Linked DNA regions of Homo sapiens: all the other regions are linked to region 1. Evidence: fine-mapped expression QTL. A gene starts in region 1. Each other region holds a variant in brackets. All regions are shown on one strand. Distances are from middle to middle. Region 1 holds the start of XKR8 (XK related 8). Region 2 has its middle 14 kb from the start of IFI6. Region 3 overlaps EYA3 (EYA transcriptional coactivator and phosphatase 3).

Region 1 (4,239 bases):
AGTGATCCACCCACGTCAGCCTCCCAGACTGCTAGGATTACAGGCATGAGCCACCAAGCCTGACCAGACCCTACCTCTTTTTAAAAAACAAACAAAAAATTATAAGCAGCTAATAAGTACTGGAATGAGGATTTGGATCCAAACCTGAATTGGAAAGGCATGCTATAAAGTTGCCTGAGGCAGTAGTTCTCAAACTTTAGTGTGCCCAAGATCTCCTGGGGTCCTGTGGGCAAGAGGACATTTGCCTCTTGGGCACTTCTGGGCACAGGCCAGATGGAATCAGACTCTGCCTTGCCCCGGCCACACAGGGGAGGGGCTGGAGGAGGGTTAGATTGGAAGGAGGGATCCCATTTAAGAGGCTGGCCCTGAGTGGTTAAGGATGGAGATTGGGGCGGAGTTAAGAGAGTCCAGAGTTTGGACAGACAGGTCTGGGGTACCCACTGGCATGAAGAGTAAGTGGAGGATGCACCAAGGACCCTCCACCCAGAACTTTGCTCTCAGTTGCCTATTGGGAGAGAACCCCGTTCACTCATCACAAGCTCATTCACCAGACATGTACTGTCACTTCCCCTGGAAGGACACAAGAACACACTGAGGAGCAGGCAGGCAGGACAGGCTGGGGTTCTCCCTCAGCAGGAGCCTTTGCCTATGGTCCCCAGTGACCTAGCAGGGACCCCTGCCTCGGCCAATTCACAGGCAGGAACAGAGACCCATTTCCAAAGCCAAAGCTAGTACAGTCTGTCTGACTCAAGCTCAGCAGAAATATTGGCCACAAAGATGCATAAGGTAGTTACAGATTCACGGCTCATGGAGGCCTGCCCAGGACTTAACAACTGCACCCCTTCATGCCCACCCGGGGTTTTCTGATGTCTCTATAATCCCTCAGGCAAAACTGCCACATTCAAAGCTCCTCTCTTCCACTCCTGGAGACTCCGTGTGGCTTTGTCAAGGCCAGATCTCAAGAGTTTGTAAAAACGGATTCAAGAGCAGATCCTGGCCCTGGCCACCCCATCCCAACCCACACCACCCTCTGCCCTGACTTTGTCGCATGCCTCTGAGCCTTGGGTTTGTTTTCCCATCTCTACGAGGCTCCACCAGGTCCAAAAAGGAGCAGAATCCACACACATTTTCCAGGACCCAGCCTATGCCCAGCCCTGGCTGGCTCCATGGGCATGGATGAGTCAGAGGCCATCTCTGCCCTCTTGCTGGGTCTGGGGTGGGAAGCCAAGTTTCAGGGGGAAGAATACAACCAGGCAGACAGGGTGAGAGGCGGCCTTTGTGAGGGGCAAGCGCTGTGGTGGGGTCAGGGCTGCTGAAACTCCCAGGGAGGCCCAGGTCAAGAAGCCAGCTGAGGTTGCTGAGTGCTCACTCTGAGCCAGGGCAGTGGACAGATGTCATTTCACTGCATCTTCACCAAACGGGCAGGCGCTATCCCCATCCCAATGGGAACAGCAACCAAACAGCCCCACTGAGAGGTCAGTGACTTCCCAAGGCCCTGCCCATGCTGAAACATGGGATGCTGAACTGAGTCCGCAGCCCCTGCCATTACAGGCCAGGCACTGTGCGAGGCACTTTCTCATTCTTTCGCTCACTCTTCACAACAGGCCTGCCCGTCACACCTGTCTCAGGGTGACTACCTCCTTTCTACGCAGGAGGAAACTGAGGCTCAGAGAAATGCAGAAGTGAGGCGAGAGGGGGCAAAGCCAGAAGTGGATCCCTGAGAGGTCCGACTTCAAAGCCCATGCGCCTCCCTTTCTTCCCTGGGCCTCAGTTTCTTCGCCTGTGCCAGGAAAGCTAGGGCTAGAATGAAGGCAGTCTACCGGGATTCCCTTTCCGTAAAGGGCTGCACGCTCACCTGTAGGCCAGGCGCCCACAGGACTTGGTTCCCTCTCCCAGTCCCCTTCCCGGCATATGGCGTGTCACCTGTACAGGTGACCCAGCTGACGGAGGTGCTGGGCTCCGACACTCCTCCCCTCCCGGGGCGAAGCACTCACCTGTACAGGTAACCCAGCTGCAGGAGATGCAGCAGCGCCAGGCAGCGGCGCGGGGGCTGCGACCCGTGCAGGCCGGCAGGGTCAGCGCGCAGCCAGAGCCAGCTGAAGAGCTGCAGCGCCACGGAGGCCAGGCCCAGCAGCGCCAGCACCAGCGCCGCCCACAGGTAGCGGCCGCCGAGCGCATACTGGACGGCGGCCCACAGGTCGGTGCCCAGGTCGAGCAGGAAGGCGGCGGTGCCCAGCACGCCCAGGACCAGGTCCCGAAGGAGGGCGCCGCGGGACGACCAGGGCATGGCCCGCCGGCCTCCGCCCTCTCCTGCTCCTCCGCGGTTGGGGCCTGCCCTCAGGGCCCGGGGTTGCCGAGGCAGGAAGGAGGTGGGCGCAGCCCTCGGGGCGGCCCGGGGCCTGGGCCTGGTGGGCGGGACTTCCCCGTCCCGCCCCGTCCGGGGAGGAGCGAGGCCCGCGGTTGTCCCAGGTCCTCCGCCCGAACCCCAGCTAAAAGCCGCTCGATGCTCTGCTCCCGCCGCCAGCCCAGGGGTCCACCGACCCAGCCCAGCCAAGCCCGCTAGGCCTGAAGACCGACTGCCCTTCGCTTCGCAGGCTTCAAATGGCCTAGTTTTACCTTTGAGGCGCCCGGAGGCCCAAGAAAGCGAGAGGGCGGGGAGACTAGAGCCTGGACCAGGGCTGCGATCCCTCACACCTGTATTGTTGCAAAACAAAACGAAACGCAAAGGCACATTCTAATCCCTAAGTGCGAGACTTTGCAACAACGCGTGCGCCTCGATCCAGGGATACCCGGAGAGCACGGGGCCGCTGGGTTCACGCCAGCGATCCGAGTCGGGGGAGGGCGGGCGTTAGGTTCCTGCAAATGAGTTAACCTCATTTCCATACGGAAGGGAATAGAGGCCGGGCGCGGTGACTCACGCCTGTAATCCCAACACTTTGGGAGGCCCAGGCGGGCGGATCACCTGAGGTCAGGAGTTCGAGACCAGCCTGGCAAACATGGCGAAACCCCGTCTCTACTAAAAATACAAATTAGTCGGGCGTGTTGGCGCGCGCCTGTAGTCCCAGCTAGGAGGCTGAGGCAGGAGAATCGCTTGAACCCGGGAGGCAGAGGTTGCAGAGAGCCGAGATAGCGCCACTGCACTCCGGCCTGGGCGACAGAGCGAGACTCCGTCTCAAAAGAAAAGAAAAGGAACACAACACAGAATCAAACGCATGATGAGCTTTGTTTTGTGAGTTAAACATAATACGCAAAAGAAGTATGCTTGTAGGGGGGTCTTGGGTCGTCATTTCTTTTCTGTTTCTGGTTTGTTTTTGGAGAGAGTCTGGCTTTGTCACCCAGGCTGGAGTGCAGTGGCGCGATCACGGATGGCTGCAGCTCCTGGGGCTTCGCTTCCTGATTCGGTTGTCCTATTTCAGTTCACTCCTCAGGCGCGGAGGAAATGGTGGAAGGCCCAGCTCTGGGTGATCCTGGGCGCTGCCCCCGTTACCCGTTACCAGGAAGAAGGTGAGCCTGGCAGGTCACAGCACGAGCGTGCACAGGCCCAGCAGGGCCATCAGCAGCAGCGGGAGCTGGGGCACGGGCGTGGTGCCAGAGGCATACAGACAGGTGGTGTAAGCGTCAATGTCCACCTGGCGCATGGCACACACGTGCTGCATGCTGCAGGCCTCGTCGCAGACCCCAGCAGAGTAGCTGACTGAGTTATAGACGTAGTAGCGCTGCAGTGTGCTCTGGTCGCCAGCGATGCGGTCCAGCACTGTGTGCATGGAGTGGGCGCTGGCGTCCGGCACCCCATAGGCCTCGGTCAGCTGGTACTCGAGCTCCCAGCGCGGCGTCCCCTGAGCATTCGCCTGGCTCAGGTTCATGAAGTAGGTCACCATGTCCTGGAAAAAGGGTTTGGGGTAGACCGGCTGTGAGCAGTTGTCTGCTTCCATCCCCATCCTGCACCTTGCATTTGCCCCCAAGTTCTTTAGAGCAGTGACCATGACCACTAGTAGTTATTGAGCACTTAGCTGTGCACCCATTGTGCTTGGCAGACATCCTCTGAATCGAATGAGGTAACTGCGCTTATTACCTAGGTTTCACAAATGAGGAAACTGAGGCCTAAAGAGGTTAATTCACTTGGCCAGGGTCATACAGGTATTCATACAGGTATTCAGTGGTAGCAGGATTGGACCCCAGGTTTACCCCAGGTCCCACCATGCTAGGGTACACATAGAAGACGCTCAGTAAATATTTACA
Region 2 (4,239 bases), 270 kb after region 1:
GCCCAGCAAATTTTAAAAGTTTTTGTACAGATAGGGTCTCACTGTGTTGCCCAGGCTGGTCTTGAACTCCTAGCCTCAAGCAGTCCTCCTGCTTTGACTTCCCAAAGTGTCAAAATTACAGGTGTGAGCCACTATGCCCAGCCCGTTTATAAATTAATCTCTATTCCTCCGCCCCCACCCATTCATTCTCCCTAGTAATCATTTATTGTCCCTCAACAGAATTACCTATATTCCCTATCTCCCCCATCCCCTCTGAAATAAAGCTATAGAAGTATTTGGGCCTCATTGGGATGTTGGGTAAGCACTCTGTGATTTTTCCCTCATGTACACATTAATAAATTTGTATGACATTTCTCTATTAATCTGCATTTTGTGGGTTGAATGTACAGTGATCCTTGAGAGGGCAAAGGAGAAGTTTTTCCCTTGGCCCCTACATTCCCTATAAATGTCAAATGGAACACCCCAGATGAAGCAGTTGATAGGTTTCATATGCAAGCCATGTGGAGCTGGCTTTACAATGACCAGGCATTCACCCGCTAAGGATGCCTGTATATGGCAGATGCAGCTGACAGCCATAACTTAACTGAAGCGTACCCTGAGAATGATCCTAGGGTCTAAGAAGAATGTGTGTTCGGAGTCCTGAGCTAAGGAATCCGGGAGTGGCCAACCCAGAGTTTCACTCCTTATCTATGAAGGACATCTGAGCCCCTGGCTCATTCCTTGGAACACAGGCCATACAGGGGATGGAGTCCCTTTTTGTGGATTAACTGGAGGTTGCTGGGTAGAGGTTGCTAGGTGGAAGGTGCTAAGTGAAAATGCTGTATCAACTGCATGCGTTTCATAAAACGCATGCCCTGTTTCATAAATGCATGCTCCTGTCCAGCCCACCACCACTGGACCATCCCTGTGTGTAAGTTCCCCTCAGTAAACCCTAAGTCTCATTCACTGGTTCCGGCCTCTAGGACACAGTGCCATCCCTATTGGAGTCAACAGGAGTCCTGCATGACAATGCCTATTACCCGGGTCATGATAAATGCTGTGGTTCAGGCAGCCTCTTTTGCATGGGCACCTCATGTAACCTTACTACTGCAAAACTGAGCTATAGTCAGAGAAGCCTTATCAAATTTGCTACCTCAGCTTCCCCTCCTGGGTCTTACGGATGGTAATGAAAACATTAAGGCAACTAACAAGAGAATAGGTAATGGGAGAGGGGAGAATCAAAGGATTTCTCCCACGAAGGCAAACATTTTTAAATGGTTATTAAGAAATAAGGCAAGAGCCACTGGCACCTGATGCCTCCCGGAGTTCATGTCCCTTCTGCCTTTCCAAGGGGTGCTTCTGTCAGACTGGCCAGGGGACAATACCCTGTTCCAGTTGAAATTTATGGTGAAGCAGCTGGAGAAACCAGACAAGAAGGCAGAAAAGCACTCCTACGCCAACCAGGCCAAAGTGAAGAAGTCCCTTCAGCAGAAAAATGTAGAGTGCACCCGTGTGTACACCAAGAACACCATCTGCAAGGAGAACAGCAGCGTGAACTGGCTCTACATGGCATCCGCCTGGACACAGTGGCCCCCGAGGTGCAGACAGCTGTGACCATGAAGGTGGTAACCAAGAACATGGTGTAGGTGACCAAAGCCCCAGACAAGGCCTGAACACCACGGACCTGCAGAAGGCCTCTGCAGCGATGGACAGGTTTGAGTAGCAAGTGCAAAACCTGGCCATGCACACATTAGTGATGGAGGATTCCATGAGCTCGGCCGCCACACTGACCATGCCTCAGGAGCAGGTGGACAGACCCATTGTGCAGAGCGCCAAGGAGAATGGCCTGGAGGTCCTAGACCAGCTCAGCCAGTTGCCCAAGGGTGCCTCTGCCGGGCGAGAGCTCCGTGTGAAGCCAGGAGGAACAGCTGTCAAGGGCGTTAGCCGCCCTGAGGAATTAGCCGCACCCTGCCGTGGGCACCGCCTCTGCTCTGTGATGTGCCGCAAGGCTCCTGGCCTCCTCCCCTCCCCCCGGCATCTTGCCTTTTTGTTGATCCTGCAGAGCTGCAGCTGGCAGCTACTGTCGCCCAGCTCCTCTCACCTGCCTGGCCTAGGTGGCCCTGGAGTTGTTCCTGTTTTCTTAGGTTGGGCGG[T/C]GGATCTGTGTCCTGGTGTTGAGTAGGGGTGACTTCTGTGACTCTGGGGCCAACAGCTGGGAGGTCAGCAGGCTCTCTTTTGCTCTCTGTGGAGTCGATGGGGTCTGGCCAGTGGGTGCCATGTAAACTTTTGCTCAACACTGCGGGGACCTTCAGACTCCGTGATAGGAGACATGCTGCTCACTGTCAGCCAGTGGGGGTCAGGGCTGCCCTGTTTTCCAGGCAGCTCCTGGAGAAGGCCTCTCCACGCACCCTGCCCCTACCACCAATGGGCAGGAGGTCCCACCATGTGAACGGACACAGCCTGAAGAGGCACCAGTGGCTCGTGTGTGCTGGGGAACGTCAGGTGCCACCCAACACTGTCTTGGTGGCATTTACAGATGATGACCCTCCCCCTCTTCCTCCTCTGTCATTCTAGGGGTGGGGTCTGGGCTGCTCCTGACAGCTGGCTGAGCCTCCCTGGGCCTCCTGCCCTCAGCTCCCCTGGTTCTTAAAGCTGCCCAGTCCATGGGGACAGAAACTTGCCCAGCTCCAAATCCAGGAGTTTCCACCCTGGGGTCCTCATCCTTGCTCATCTGCCACCTCTGGAGGTGCCTTGGGCTACATGGGCTGTGCTGTTGTGTCCCCTCAGCAGGGGGTCTGTCCATGCACTGGCCAGAATTGAGCATGTGCGTGGGGCCTCCTCGGTGATGCTGCCTGTGTGCCAATCTCTTCTGTCTCTCTAAATAACTGGGTGCCTCCCCCGACTGCACCCCATCCTACCTTCCCAGCGTGGAAGCCAGAGTGGCTGGTGAAGGGAGCTTAGGAGAGTCACCTTCAGCTGGGCCAGTGGCTCTGTGAGGAAAACCTGTGCTGTGGCCACGCGGGCACCACCAGCTGCAGCTCATCAGGAGGACTCGGAGAGGGGGACGGCAGAGAGAGGGCTTTGGGCACAGCCTGCTGTTTTGTTTTTTCTGTTCCCTAAAGTTTACTTCATTTTCTTGAAGCTTCCAGGGTTTTGTTGTTGTTTGCCAAAGTAGAAAGGACAGGTGGCAGGCGGGGAGGGTGAGTCCCAGCCCCTCCTCTGCACCAGGGCTGCCGCGGTGTCATGGCTCTTATGAAGGGAAGCATAAGACCCTCACTCAGTGCGTTTGGTTTTCTTTTCAGGATTTCAGAGCCCCTGGGAGGAGATCCCATTGGTGGGTCTGGACATGCGGAGGTCAAGGCACCATCTGGCCATGGTCCTCTCCAGCCTCCCCAGAAATTGACCCACATGCTGGGTGTTGAAACAAGGTCCCTCTATCCCTTGCAAATAACAGCTTTGGAATTAACAGCTTTGGGGAGCTACCTTGTCCTCCCAAGGGTGCAGGGCTCCACAGAGCCAAGGGCCAGGCAGGGGCTACCTCAGCCCTGTCTCCTTGGGCACCAAAGCAGGGATTTGTTGAAGGAGAGAGCCATGTTTGCCCTTTTCCTAAAATGCTGCTGTAAATAAACAGGTCCCCCAGCAAGCAAGGAAGCAAAGGAAGGAAGGAAGGAAGGAAGGAAGGAGAAGGAAAGAAGAAAGGAGAGAGAGGGAGGGAGAGAAAGAAGAGAACACTGATAAGGGTGAAACTAAGAGGAAAAAGAAAGGGGAGAGTCATGAGACTCGTCTGAGCAGGATGGAAATCCTTAGATGGTTATTAAGAAATAGGATGAGTAAAATAAAAATTAATGAGGTTTTAAAAAAGGAAATTAATGCAGTGAAAACAAATGTCTTTTTTTTTTTTTTTTTTTTTTTTTTGAGACAGAGTCTCGCTCTGTCACCCAGGCTGGAGTGCAGTGGCATGATCTCAGCTCACTGTAACCTCTGCCTCCTGGGTTCAAGCAATTCTCCTGCCTCAGCTTCCCAAGTAACTGGGATTACAGGGACCTGCCACCACGCCTGGCTAATTTTTGTATTTTTAGTAGAGATGGGGTTTTGGCATGTTGGCCAGGGTAGTCTTGAACTCCTGACTTCAGGTGATCTGCCAGCCTCGGCCTCCCAAAGTGCTGGGATTACAGTCATGAGCCACTGCGCGTGGCCAAAATAAATGTCTTAATACAACACTATTGAAGGTTGGGTGGACCAAAGAGAGTCTCTGATGGTCTT
Region 3 (4,239 bases), 50 kb before region 1:
AAATGTATTTGTATTTCCAGCTTTCTCATAAATGTTATGAGTTTTGTTTCCCTTTTGTTTAAAGTAGGATCCAACCCATTCCACAGTGTATACATATTTCAAAACAACATAAAGCATATACAGTTTTTATCGCATTAGTAAATAGAAATAATAAATAAATAGAAAATTTGAGGAGGGAAAATTAGGATCCAAATATAAGGTCCATAAATTGTGATTGGTAATTATGGGTATTTTGTGTTTCATCTCTATTTTAACCTATAAATCCTCCCGTCTCTTTTTCTCCCCCTTGTAGTTTGTTTGTTGAAGAAACTGGAGTGTTGATCCCATACTGTTTCCCAGTCTGAATTTTGACAGTTATATCCTCATAAGGTGGTTTAACATGTCCTGCTGCCTTCTGTATTTTATAGTAAATTGGTGAATGAACAGTTGTTTTCAACTGTTGGCAATGTATGGAAACATTTTTGGTTGTTACACTAGGTGGGGCGGTGCTTCTGGCATCTAGTGGGTAGATGCTAAGGATACTGCTTAACCAAACATCCTATAATGCACAAGACATCCCCCCACAACAAATAATTATCTGATCCAAAATGTCAGTTGTGCCAGGTTGAGAAACTCTAATCTACAAGTTTGACCATGAAGATTCAGGTTCAGCTTTTTCTTGGCAAAACAACTTCATTGATATTTTCTTCTATCATGGGGTAAGCATATAAAGTCTGGTTATAACTTTTCTGATGTTAGCCAGTGCTGATGCTCAATGCCTAGATGTACACTTCATAATTGCTTACATAAGGTTTAGCTTTCCAACCTTTATCCCTGCATTATGACTCACAAGGGCAGAGAGTCCACTAACCCTCTTCCTGCCCTGATTCTTATAGCCTGTGACTCCTGACAACATATGTTTCACTTTTTCTTTCCAGGAGACCCTTCTACAAGTCCATCTTTGTCCCAGACTACACCAAGTAAAGATACTGATGATCAGTCCAGGAAAAACATGACTAGCAAGAACCGGGGCAAGAGGAAAGCTGATGCCACTTCTTCCCAAGACAGTGAATTAGAAGTATGAGAAGAAACTGATTTAGTTACCTACTTTGTTCTTTCTCACTTCTTAAGTTTATCAAACATGTTTTTGAAGCTCACAGAGATAATGTGCACTATGTTATGTGCCCTTTAATTCCTGAGCAAAATAAACTAAATTGGCCACGTTAAAAGAAAAATGTAAAAAGAACAAATTATTCTGTATATTCCAGAAGAGAACAGAAACAATTCATCATATTCAGAAAGCAGAGGGAGTTACAAGTAAAGTCATACTGTTCTCTATTTAAAATTTTAAAAGGGTCAGGTGCGGTGGCTTACATCTGTAATCCCAGCACTTTGGGAGGCTGAAGCGGGAGGATCGCTTGAGACCAGCCTAGGCAACATAGTGAGACCCCCATCTCTAAAAATATATATATACAAGAATTAGCTGCACACCTGTAGTCCCACCTACTTGGGAGGCTGAGATGGGAGGATCACTTGAGCCTGGCAGGTTGAGGCTGCAGTGAGCTATGATCGGGCCACTGCACTCCAGCCAGGGCAACAGAGTGAGACTCTGTCTCAAAAAGAAAAGAAATTTAAAAGGAAAGGACTAGAGTGCTTTTAGCCAAGTTTC[T/C]GTAAGGCGCAAACAGATCTGGTAACTTATTAATGAGACTGGTGCTGATTTATTCTGTAGTGTAAGTACTATATGAGTTTATTATGGACATACATTTGACTTCATCATTAAAGACATAAAGGTCATGCAGAGTGCTAAAATTAGTGGAGTTTTTGTATTATCTTTTTGTTTTCTGTTTTCCGTTTTTCTATAGTGCTATTATGTACTGAGGGGAAAATACATATTTAACTATGAATCCATTGATAAGTGCTCTTAAGACATAGGTGAACTGAGCCTGTATTTGAAGCCTTTTCTCTTTTTTCAGAGGTTTGGAGTGAAGAAGAAAGAAAGAAAAAGTAAATTTCTGATATATTTCTTAGGAAAAACTGATAACTCATTTTTTAATTGTCTAAAATATACATAAAATTTACCATTTTAGCCATTTTTAAGTGTACAATTTAGTGTCATTATACATTCTCAATATTGTCTAACCATCACCACTGTATATTTCTAGAACTTTTTCATGATTCCAAATGAAAACTCTGTACCCATTAAGCAGTAACTCCCCATTCTCCCCTTCTTCTAACCTCTGGTAACCTCTATTCTACTTTCTGTCTTTGACTTCTTATTCTAGATATCTCATATAAGTGGAATCACAGAAAATGTATCCTTTTGTGCCAGACTTATTTCATTTACCATAATGGTTTTTTGTTGTTGTTGTTGTTGTTGTTGTTGTTTTGAGATGGAGTCTCAGGCTGGAGTGCAGTGGCACGATCTCGGCTTACCGTGACCTCTGCCTCCCGGGTTCAAGTGATTCTCCTGCCTCAGCCTCCAGAGTAGCTGGGATTATAGGTGCACACCACCATGCCTGGCTAATTTTTGTATTTTTAGTAGAGACAGGGTTTCAACATGTTGGTCAGTCTGTTCTTAAACTCCTGACCTCGTGATCCGCCTGCCTCGGCCTCCCATAGTGCTGGGATTACAGACGTGAGCCACCATGCCCTGCCTACCATAATGTTTTTAAGGTTCATCCATGTTGTAGCACATACCAGAATTTCATTCCTTTTTATGTCTGAATATTTTATTATATGTATATACCACATTTTGTTTATCCATTCATCTGTTGATGGACACTTGGGGTTTGTCACCTTTGTGCTATTGTGAGTAATGCTGCTTTGACCATTGGTGTACAATTATCTATCTGAGTTCATCTTATCAATTCTTTTTGGTATATATGTAGGAGTGGAATTGCTGGATGCTATTGTAATTCTGTGCTCCACTTTTTGAGAAACCACCAAACTATTTTTCATTGTGGCTGCACGGTTTTATACTCTTACCAGCGATACATAAAGGTTCCAGTTTGTTCACATCCTCGCCAACACTTGTTATTTCCCATTTTTTTGATAATAGCTATTCTAATGGATGTGAAGTGGTATCTTATTGTGGCTTTGATTTGCATTTCCCTAGTGCAGTGGCACAATCTCGGCTCATTGCAACCTCTGCCTCCCAGGTTCAAGCAATTCTTGTGCCTCAGCCTCCTGAGTAGCTGGGATTACAGGCACATGCCACCACGCCTGGTTAATTTTTGTATTTTTAGTAGAGACGGGGTTTCACCATGTTGGCCAGGCTGGTCTTGAACTGCTGACCTCAGGTGATCCACCCACCTCAGCCTCCCAAAGTGCTGGGATTACAAGCATGAGAACCTTTGCCCACTTTTAAACTGGGTTGTTTGGTTTTTCATTGTTGAGTTGTAGGAGTTCTTTGTATATTCTATATTAATATTCTAGAATATTCTAGATTATTAATCCCTTATATTAATCAGATATATAATCTTCAAATATTTTCTCCCATTCTGTAGGTCGTCTTTTCACTCTCTCAATTTTTGTGCTTTGAAGCACAAAAATTTTTAATGTTTAGGAAGTCTGATTTCTATTATTGCTGTGCTTTTGGTCTAATACTTGTTGTTTCTTTTTGTTTTGTTTTGTTTTCTTGGTGTAATACTTAATACACGGTTATGAAGATTTTTATGTATTTTTTCTGAGATTTTCATCGTTTAGCTCTTAAATTTAGGCTGTTCTCCATTTTGAGTTAGTTTTGTATATGGTGTAAGATAATGGTCTAACTTTATTATTTTGCATATGGATATCCAGTTTTCCCAGCACTATTTGTTGAAAAGACGTTCCTTATTGAATGGTTTTGGCATCCTATTAAAAATTAACTTATGATGTTGGCTGTAGGTTAAATACTAAAAGAAGGTAAAAAACTAAACTAAAAAAAGAAAAAGAAAAATTGATCATATTTGTAAGGCTTTATTTTTAGACTCTCGGTTTATTTCATTCGTCTCTATGTCTATCCTTATGCTAGTACCACACTGTTTTGGTTACTGTAAGTTTTGAAATCAGGAAGTGTGAATCCTTCAACTTTGTTCTATTTCAAGACAGTTTTGGCTATTTGGGGTTCCTTGAGATTCATAAGAATTTTAGAATGCAATTTTCTATTTTTTTAAAAAACTACTATTGGATTTTGATAGGGATTGCGTTGAATTTGTAGGTTGGTTTGGGTAGTATTGTCTTCTTTACAATATTAAGTCTTCTAATCCATGAACATGGATG

The links. PIP is the estimated chance that this variant, and not a neighbour inherited with it, causes the effect.
Region 2: its variant is the best candidate, but not a certain one, in a credible set for the expression of XKR8 in whole blood (TOPMed, PIP 0.89).
Region 3: its variant is the best candidate, but not a certain one, in a credible set for the expression of XKR8 in tibial nerve (GTEx, PIP 0.83).

Annotation. Positions count from the first base shown.
Region 1 is chr1:27,958,118-27,962,356 of GRCh38, reverse strand. XKR8 (XK related 8) reads right to left here and starts at 2,384. Exons shown (of 3, transcript NM_018053.4): 1 at 1,995-2,384. The coding sequence starts at 2,287. It overlaps SMPDL3B (sphingomyelin phosphodiesterase acid like 3B), which reads right to left. Exons shown (of 8, transcript NM_014474.4): 8 at 3,205-3,881. The coding sequence ends at 3,519. RefSeq lists an enhancer at 1,880-2,443 and a silencer at 2,124-2,513.
Region 2 is chr1:27,684,510-27,688,748 of GRCh38, reverse strand. It overlaps the pseudogene CHMP1AP1. Among named protein-coding and RNA genes, the nearest start is that of IFI6, 14 kb to the right of the region's middle. The variant T/C (reference allele first, on the strand shown) is at 2,133.
Region 3 is chr1:28,007,765-28,012,003 of GRCh38, reverse strand. EYA3 (EYA transcriptional coactivator and phosphatase 3) reads left to right here. Exons shown (of 18, transcript NM_001990.4): 10 at 918-1,057. Among named protein-coding and RNA genes, the nearest start is that of XKR8, 50 kb to the right of the region's middle. The variant T/C (reference allele first, on the strand shown) is at 1,649.